Regions from separate parts of the Homo sapiens genome. Here region 1 is linked to region 2. Evidence: fine-mapped expression QTL. A gene starts in region 2. The other region holds a variant in brackets. All regions are shown on one strand. Distances are between the middles of the regions. Region 1 has its middle 49 kb from the start of NHSL1. Region 2 holds the start of NHSL1 (NHS like 1).

Region 1 (4,397 bases), 48 kb after region 2:
GCCTGCTGGGCTGTGCTGCTGACACCTCCCTATCTCTCCTGGGTTATTTCACACCATGGAATCAGCCTGCAATCATCTTGAAAGGGGAAAGGAGCCAGGGGTTAGCAGTCACCGTTCATATAGTCCAGTGCAGATCAGCCCAAGGGCGAGCCCATTTGTTTGTGCTTCTCTCTCAGCATTTTCCACCACAGCGGATGCAGCTCTTCACGTGATCAACAACACAAAAAAGAAATCACTCAATTCAGTTTAACCTTTTGCTATTAATTATGACTTACTATTCACTGACTTCATTATTCCTTTTCTGTTCACATGCTCCCCTTTTTTTTCTAATATAGAACACACCATATACTGGTACATAATTAACACTGCACATTATAATAGGAAACTTTGCACTCTGTTGTCTGAGTCTACGTAAATGAGTGAATATATGTGAAATGCTCTTTCAGTCCCAGACAAATCATAAGCACAAAGTAAGTGCTATCATTACTACTACATACTGCTATTTAAAAACGGGGCGGACATGGTGGCTCACACCTATAATCCCAGAACTTTGGGAGACCAAGGTGGGAATATCACTTGAGCCCAGGAGTTTGAGACCAGCCTCGGCAACACAGTGAGACCCCATCTCTACAAAAAAAAAAAAAAAAAAAAAAAAAAAAAAAACTAGCTGGGCATGGTGGCATGCACCTGTGGTCCCAGCTACTTGGGAGGCTGAGGAGGGAGGATTGTTTGAGACCAAGAGGTCGAGACTGCATTGGGCCATGATCACACCACTGCACTCCAGCCCAGGCAACAGAGTGAGACCTTGTCTCAAAACAAAAAACAAACAAACAGAAAACAAGAAAACCACTTGAGTATTAGGATAAAAATGTGAAGCATGTTACACTTCTATGGCAATGTCATTTTTTCAAATGAGGAAACAAATGCAGCATTAGAGTACGAGAATTTCTAACTGTACTGTGGCTGTGATCAGATCAGTACATTTCTTCCCCTCCACTGGAAAGCTAAATTCACTCTGGCAAGTTCAAGGTTACTTGACTGTGGACTCTCAAACACAGGTGGAAAGTGGCAGAAGGAATCTTATGACAGACCTGATGAGAAACAGTCCACAAATACTGCCTCAGGAGCACCCTGCTTGAAAAGTACCATCTGAACCCTAAGTGGCCCCGTGGTCCTTCCCCACAGAGACGTGAGTCTCCTGGCTCAGGAAGTGGCCATTGTTCACAGGACCCGTTGCTGTTTGCAGGTCTTCCTTTTGACTCCACAGGATGCAGGAAACTGACTCACAGAACCAATCTATCTATCTGTCTGTGTCCTGGGGTGCTCACTGCCACACAGTAAGGATGCTCTATGTTCTTTTGGTTTTCAACATACGGTGCAGCATATCCCAGCTGGGTTTCTGCTCCCTGTCACCATGAATCACCAATAGCACCTGGGTAATAAATATGTTGTCTACCATAAGGAAGTCACTGTACTAGTTTCTATGATCACAAGAATATATAAGAGGTCTCTAGCCAGAAGCTAGTTAGGATTAAAAAAAAAAAAAACTGCATGGGGAATGATGAACAGTGATATTAACGCTTCTTCTTCTTTTTTTTTCCCCTGAGAGGGTCTCACTCTGTTGCCCAGGCTGGAGGGCAGTGGTGTGATCTCAGCTCACTGCAAGCTCCGTCTCCCAGGTTCTCGCCATTCTCCTGCCTCAGCCTTCCGAGTAGCTGGGATTACAGGCGCCCGCCGCCAGGCCCGGCTAATGTTTTTTTGTATTTTTAGCAGAGACAGGGTTTCACTATTTTAGCCAGGATGGTCTCGATCTCCTGACCTTGTGATCCACCCGCCTCGGCCTCCCAAAGTTCTGGGATTACAGGCGTGAGCCACCATCCCCGGCCTGATATTAACTCTTAGAACAGAATGGGAGGGAACCTCATAGCTCATTTCATTTGTGTAAACCATGAGGTGATTGATTCACCTAACAAACAAGATCAAAACCAGACCAGCTGATTAGCCTCTTCCATCTCACCACGGGACTCTCTCCATGGCTGATCTGAGTTATTCTCTGTCCTCTCCTGTTCTGAGTAGTCTCTCCCATGTAATTTACGAATTACAGAGGTATTCCTGAAAATATTTTCATGGGTTACATTTAACTTTTCAAATTGTACAGAGAGAGAAAGGAACTCCTACCTTAGAGACTTAAGACTTTTGAACACAGGCTAATGAGACCGAGTCTCACTCTGGCTGGAGTGCAGTGGCACGATCTTGGCTCACTGCAACCCCCACCTCCTGAGTTCAAGCAATTCGCTGCCTCAGCCTCCCAAGTAGCTGGGACTACAGGTGCCCGCCACCATGCCCGGCTAATTTTTTTTTGTATTTGTAGTACAGACAGGGTTTCACCATCTTGGCCAGGCTGGTCTTGAACTCCTGACCTCGTGATCCACCCACCTCAGCCTCCCAAAATGCTGGGATTACAGGCGTGAGCCACTGCACCTGGCAGTTTAAGCCTTTTTAAA[C/T]AGAGATGACTTTATATGCTGGAAAGTATAGTGGACTGAAAAGTAAAGAGAATCTCATTCCAGTCATATCTATATGACTATCTAGTTCAAGTCTGTCCAACCTGTGGCCCACATGCAGCCCAGGACAGCTCTGAATGTGACCCAACACAAATTTGTAAACTTTCTGAAACATTATGAGATTGTTTTGCAATTTTTAAGTTCATCAGCTATCATTACGGTTGGTGTATTTTATGTGTGGCCCAAGACAATCCTTCTCCTTCCAATGTGGCCCCAGGGAAGCCAAAAGATTGGATGCCCTAATAGTTAGTCTCACAGCAGTTCATGGCCTGTAAATGTGAGGACTGAATAGAACAAGGGGACTAAATTAACTCTAAGGTTCCATCTTAACTCAATAATTTTTTATTTTTGGTATGAATACACACACATACTATTAGGTACATTATGTCAGGTCACAGGAAAAGAATCTTTGCCTTCTTGTGGTTTAGTGCAAGAGATGAGTGGAATAAATATAATTCAGTGTGGTAAGTCACATAACAGAAGAATACACAAAATTAATAATGATCAATGGTAGTTCTTGCCTACTGCCATCTCATTAAGCTACTCTCCTAAAGTTAAAGCATATATAATTTAATGTAGTGGGTTGAATAGTGTCCACCCCAAATTCATGTCCACCCTCAGAGTGTGAACTTATTTGGAAATAAAGTCTTCATAAGTTAAGGAAGGTAAGAATCAAGATGAGATGATACTGCATTAAGGTGGGCCCTAAATCCACTCACAGTGTCCTAATAAGAGAGAAAATGGAGTCGGGCATGGTGGCTCATGCCTGTAATCCCAGCGCTTTAGGAGGCCAAGGCGGGTGGATCACCTGAGGTCAGGAGTTCGAGACCAGCCTAACCAACATGGAGAAACCCTGTCTCTACTAAAAACACAAAATTAGCCAGGCGTAGTGGCGCATGCCTGTAATCCCAGCTACATGGGAGGCTGAGGCAGGAGAATTGCTTGAACCTGGGAGGCGGAGGTTGCAGTGAGCCAAGATTGCGCCATTGAACTCCAACCTGGGCAACAAGAGCAAACCTCTGTCTCAAAAAAAGAGAGAGAGACAGAAAAGGATACAGAGACACAGTGAAGGTCATAAAAGATGGAGGCACAGACTGGAGGGATGCTGTCACAGATAAGGAACACCTGGAACCAGCAGAAGCTGGAAGAGGCAGGACAGAATTCTCCCATACTGCCTCTGGTGGGAGCAGGACTCTGTTACCACCTTGATTTTAGAACTCGGGTTTCCTAAATAGGGAGAGAATAAACTGGTTATTTTAAGCCACCACGCTTGGGGTAATTTGTTACAGTGACTCTAGGGAACTTATACATTTAGCAAGGTAATAATTACGTGAGATGGGCATGATTTGTTTTTCTTTTAAATCGTCTTCAATTTATGTTTACATAGGCTTAAAACCTATTTTTTCCATACCCTTGTACTTACTGCAGCAAAATGTTATAGCACTTCTAAACAGCACACATACCAACCTCTATTAAATTGCTGAAATTATAGGTATCACTATCTGAAAACTTCACAGCATTAACCTCGAGCAATGACAACAAAAGGGGTTTTTCTTAATGTCAAATATAAAGTTATCATATTAAAAAAAAATCCCTTGTGGGCCGGGCACAGTGGCTCATGCCTATAATCCCAGCACTTTAGGAGGACAAGGCAGGCTGATCACCTGAGGTAAGGAGTTTAAGACCAGCCTGGCCAACATGGCGAAACCCCATCTCTACTAAAAATATAAAATGAGCCAGGTGTGGTGTCGTACACCTGTAATCCCAGCTACTCCGGAAGCTGAGGCAGGAGAATTGCTTGAACCTGGGAGGCGGAGGTTGCAGTGAGCTGGGATC
Region 2 (4,397 bases):
AGGAGCAAGTCTTCCTGACTCTGATCTATGCTATAGAGTTCACACTGGGCGTATCCATGTCCCCAACATAACATGTACCTGGAAACTAGACCATAAAATGAATTCTCAAAGTAACATGAGAACACACGCATAAACTATTAAATCCATTTGAGCACATCTAAAATTCACTAAACATACTCTATAGCACAGTTATTAGGGCTACTCTAAAGATCAAATGAACCAATATACATAAAGTACTTAGCTCAAGAAATAACTCAGGTAAAACATGGTTGTGGCAGGAACAGTAAAAATTATTCTAACGAGGCCCCAAACTTTGAACTGTCACTGTCTCTTGTAAACCTGGGCCACATGCTAGCGCTCATCTCACATACCATCTTTTCTGCAGCTACTAAATTTTACAATCTTATGAATCTGAACAGGATAACTCATTTTCAAAAGGACCCCACCTTCTCCGTAAGTTGCTAAATGAGAAAATAAACATTGAGAACTAGATATCAAGTTAAAAACAGAAATGTCCATTGTGCTTTCTGCTTAGTATTTGACAAAAGCAGTATGTGAATTTGGCACCTAGTATTTCATGTAAACTCTTGTTGAGCAAATGTTTTGCATGGTGCATACAACTATCAATCTTAATACACAAAATCCACAAAGACCTGACTTAACCCTCATTTGTGTTTCAGAAGAATCTAGCATTGGGCCAAACTCACCATATGTCCCCCCAAAGTGTAGCCAGAGTTCATCACAGTGTTTTGTGCTGATGTCCATTTATTTTAAAGACTGAGTTACCATACTTCAGAGTTAGAAACTATTGAAAATGGAAACTTTTCCTATTCGACAATTTCAAATCAAATCCAAGTAATGGCATTCGTGTCTGCACCATCAATCGCACCATCGGCCCCACTGCACAGCTACCAACTGGCTCCTATGAAAAAGTCTCTTCCCCTCGTGTTCCTCACTCTCGCCAGGGCCACTTTTAATCTGTTCATCCAAAGGCAGCCTTTAGCAAGGAGCTGCAGAAAATCAGCCCACCGTGCTGCTCTTTGTAGCTTTCTCCAAAGCTCCTCTTACCAATGCCCCTACCCATGTTCATTTATCCAGTATAAGTCACTGGTCCAAACACTAAACTAAACTAAAATAAAATAAACCACCGACTATGTAAAAACAAAGCCAAGTAGTTATAAAAATTATTATTTTCAAGAGAATGAAGAAGCACCTACATTAAAGAAATGTAAGTCAATGGTAAGTACACAATAAAGCCACATCACAAAAGTTCTGTACCTTACAACAATCACTGATCAGTCTAGACAGTTTGTGCTCGAGCTCTTAAATACACAACAAAGAGTGCCAGGGAGTTTCAGGGGATTATCTCCACCAGAAATATGTGATACATTACACAGAGGCTCCCTTACCTCAGCTGCATATTTATCCAAAGAATCAAAAAATCATACACTTGATATCAAGGGAAACATAAATTAAGTACAAGAATTTCCCCCCTCTTCAAAGGACTTCTTTTGAAAAGCACAGAAGAAGTGAATTCACTTAAAACCCCAATCATAAATAAATAAGACATGCTAAGATCACATAATACTGTCCTAGAGTTACAAAAGTCTGAGGTATTTAAACAACCTGGTATAGAGTAGAGTTTAACTCATGCCTATTACGCTGTTTCACACTCTAATTTCTTCACACAAAAGAACGAAGGACCTAAAACACACACATGGACACACACACACACACACACACACAGACACACAGGGACATATACACATATGGAAACATATGCACACAATAGGTAGTAGAGAGAAAAGGAACTACTTACTTTTCTTCTTAAAAAGTTTAATTAAAGACTTAATCTTTGCATTAATGAAGACCACCATTTCCAGGGCACCTACATAGAGCTTAGAAATGTAAATCACATTAAAAGCTCAGCCCAGTAGGCAGGTGGCAAGCTTCGTCCTTCTGCTACAGATTCTAACTTTTTCTTCCCCCGGTCTCATATCCTTAGACATCTGCCCAGGCTGATGTAACTGAGGTTGAGTTTATTGTCAGGCAGTTACAAACCATTAACAGTCCTTGAACCTGAAAAACTCCTACTGAAACCTAATCTTTAAGGCTGAGAGCAGCCAGTGACATCGTGCGCTGAAAGAAAGAGAAAGCCAATCACGGTTCTTATTTGCATGACAGCCACATCAGGCTTTCTGCCTCAGTGCCCATTCATTCAGTTTTCTCTCCAACAGATCAGAAGTTCCTCCTCTCTGAGCCCACAAAAATAGTGCAGACTTTCCTCTACGGAAGTCAAGATGAAACAAATGTGTTCCCCATTTCATTAGGCCCCTATGAACACCCAGATCTTTTACAGGAGCTGCCAAGTCTGACAGCAATTCCAGTTAATTCAGGGTATATGGGATTTGAACTGATTTAGGGGGGAAAAAAACCAAACTATTGTTTCCCAACCACGCCCCAGGCTCTGCCTCCGATACCAAAGGAACTTGTACAAGCAGTAAAACTTTAGAATAGAATCTCCAAGGAGCTGCAAATGATGACTTGGTTGCATTTTTGTGCAAATTAGGATGCTCTGTCTTCTCACCCTTCTTTGCCAGTGATTGAGAATCAGCATTGTGTGTTCCAAAGCATGATCTTATTTGCATCTAGCTGCCACAACAATCAAGAAAAAAAAAAATCCACCAAAAAAAATACAACTTCCCCACTCCAAATGATAAATTAGATAAAGTACCCTAATCATTTTAATCTTTATTTTATATGTAATTGTCACTTAGGCTCCTGGTTTTCAGAATTCCATAATCGCCCTTCCCTCAATGTTGTCTCAAACAAACATTATCTGAGTTACTCTTTAACTTGAATCTACCATCCAGAGTGCTGGTTCTTTTGCCCATTGGCAATTAACCACAGAGAACTAGGGAAGCACAAGTAGAGACAGAGAAATCAGAAACAGAGTATAAGAAGGCACTGAAAAAACATATTCCAGGGGTAAAGGGATAGGAAAAAAGAGGAGAATATAGATCCGGAAATACTATGACAACGGAAAAAGGAAAAGAATCTTCCTCACATCTCAGCCCAGTTCCACTTCATGGCCAAACACTTTTGAAACAATTTAGACAACCTCTTATTTCATAGCTTTGGGCCAGACTTATAACTCAATGGAAAAATGTAATAATCCACTAATTCAAAACATTTAGTTTATAACAAAGGCTCTTAGTCAAAGAATAAAATTTATATAAGGGGCTCTGTCTAGGGAAAGCTTTGAAATGATTCCTTCTCAGGTCTTTTTATGCCCTTTATTTTTTCAACAACAACAAAACAAAAGAACACATAGGGGAAAGCTTTGAAATGATTCCTTCTCAGGTCTTTTTATGCCCTTTATTTTTTCAACAACAACAAAACAAAAGAACACATAGAAACGTTACCATCTTATCATACATATTATCACAGATTTCCAATTTGTGTTATTTCATTTTATATATAGCTTTATTTTAAAGTAATTAAATTGCCAGATGGCAAATGAGAAACGACTGAGCCTGTAAGTCAGATTATGTGGCTGCCTTAAATTAGCGGGCAAAGTTCCCCTTTGGAAAACAAATTTATCTGCAAGAGTGACCTCGCTCTGCTCATTGCATTAGACACAAGGAGAGTTGTGGGCAAAAACACTCATATGCACAATCCACAAGTGTTTGAGGTTAAGTGTCACCATGCAAATGTCCAGTGAAAACAGAAATTGTTCTTTCAAGAAACTCTGATTATGCTCAACCCTCCATAGCATGTAGCTTTCCATGTGCTCAACAATGGCATCTGAATATAGATTCGTTCATCAGAAAGATAAATACCAGGCACCGATGCTAACTGCTACTCTTTCATTTCATTGGGATACATCATTGGACAAAATAGGTGAGATCCCTGCCCTCATGGAGCTTAAATTATTTGACACTGAACTACAATTTTGTGGTATATTAGAAGGAGTTGAGTGCAACAGACAAAATAAAAAAGTTAAGCAACATAAAAGGGGGTTTGAGGGTGGCCAGGCTGCAGCATCGTAGGAGTCAGGGTGGTCCTCGTGAAAAGTCGAGATTTGAGCAAAACCTTGAAGGAGGCAATGGCAAGAAAACAAAACTGTGTAATGAATCTCACTGGCTCTCATTTTAAAGAGAGAGAGAGAGATTCCTCAGGCTGTGAGACACATTTCCATCCCCCAGGACTAGAGAAGTGCTCTTTCCTCTCAGAAAATGAACTGTAGGAAGAATCTTGCATGGGGTAATTTCCTTTCTCACTCAATATTAAGTGTGATATAAAGTGGCCGCAGTTGTTCCTCTGTATCCATTCCAGGATGCCCCTTGGATACAAAAATCCTTGGATGCTCCAGTCCCTGATATAAAATACTGTAG

The links. PIP is the estimated chance that this variant, and not a neighbour inherited with it, causes the effect.
Region 1: its variant is the best candidate, but not a certain one, in a credible set for the expression of NHSL1 in fibroblasts (GTEx, PIP 0.64).

The regions. Positions count from the first base shown.
Region 1 is chr6:138,545,797-138,550,193 of GRCh38, forward strand. It overlaps a transcript of NHSL1 not described here. Among named protein-coding and RNA genes, the nearest start is that of NHSL1, 49 kb to the left of the region's middle. The variant C/T (reference allele first, on the strand shown) is at 2,505.
Region 2 is chr6:138,497,414-138,501,810 of GRCh38, forward strand. NHSL1 (NHS like 1) reads right to left here and starts at 2,081. Exons shown (of 8, transcript NM_001144060.2): 1 at 1,820-2,081. The coding sequence starts at 1,877.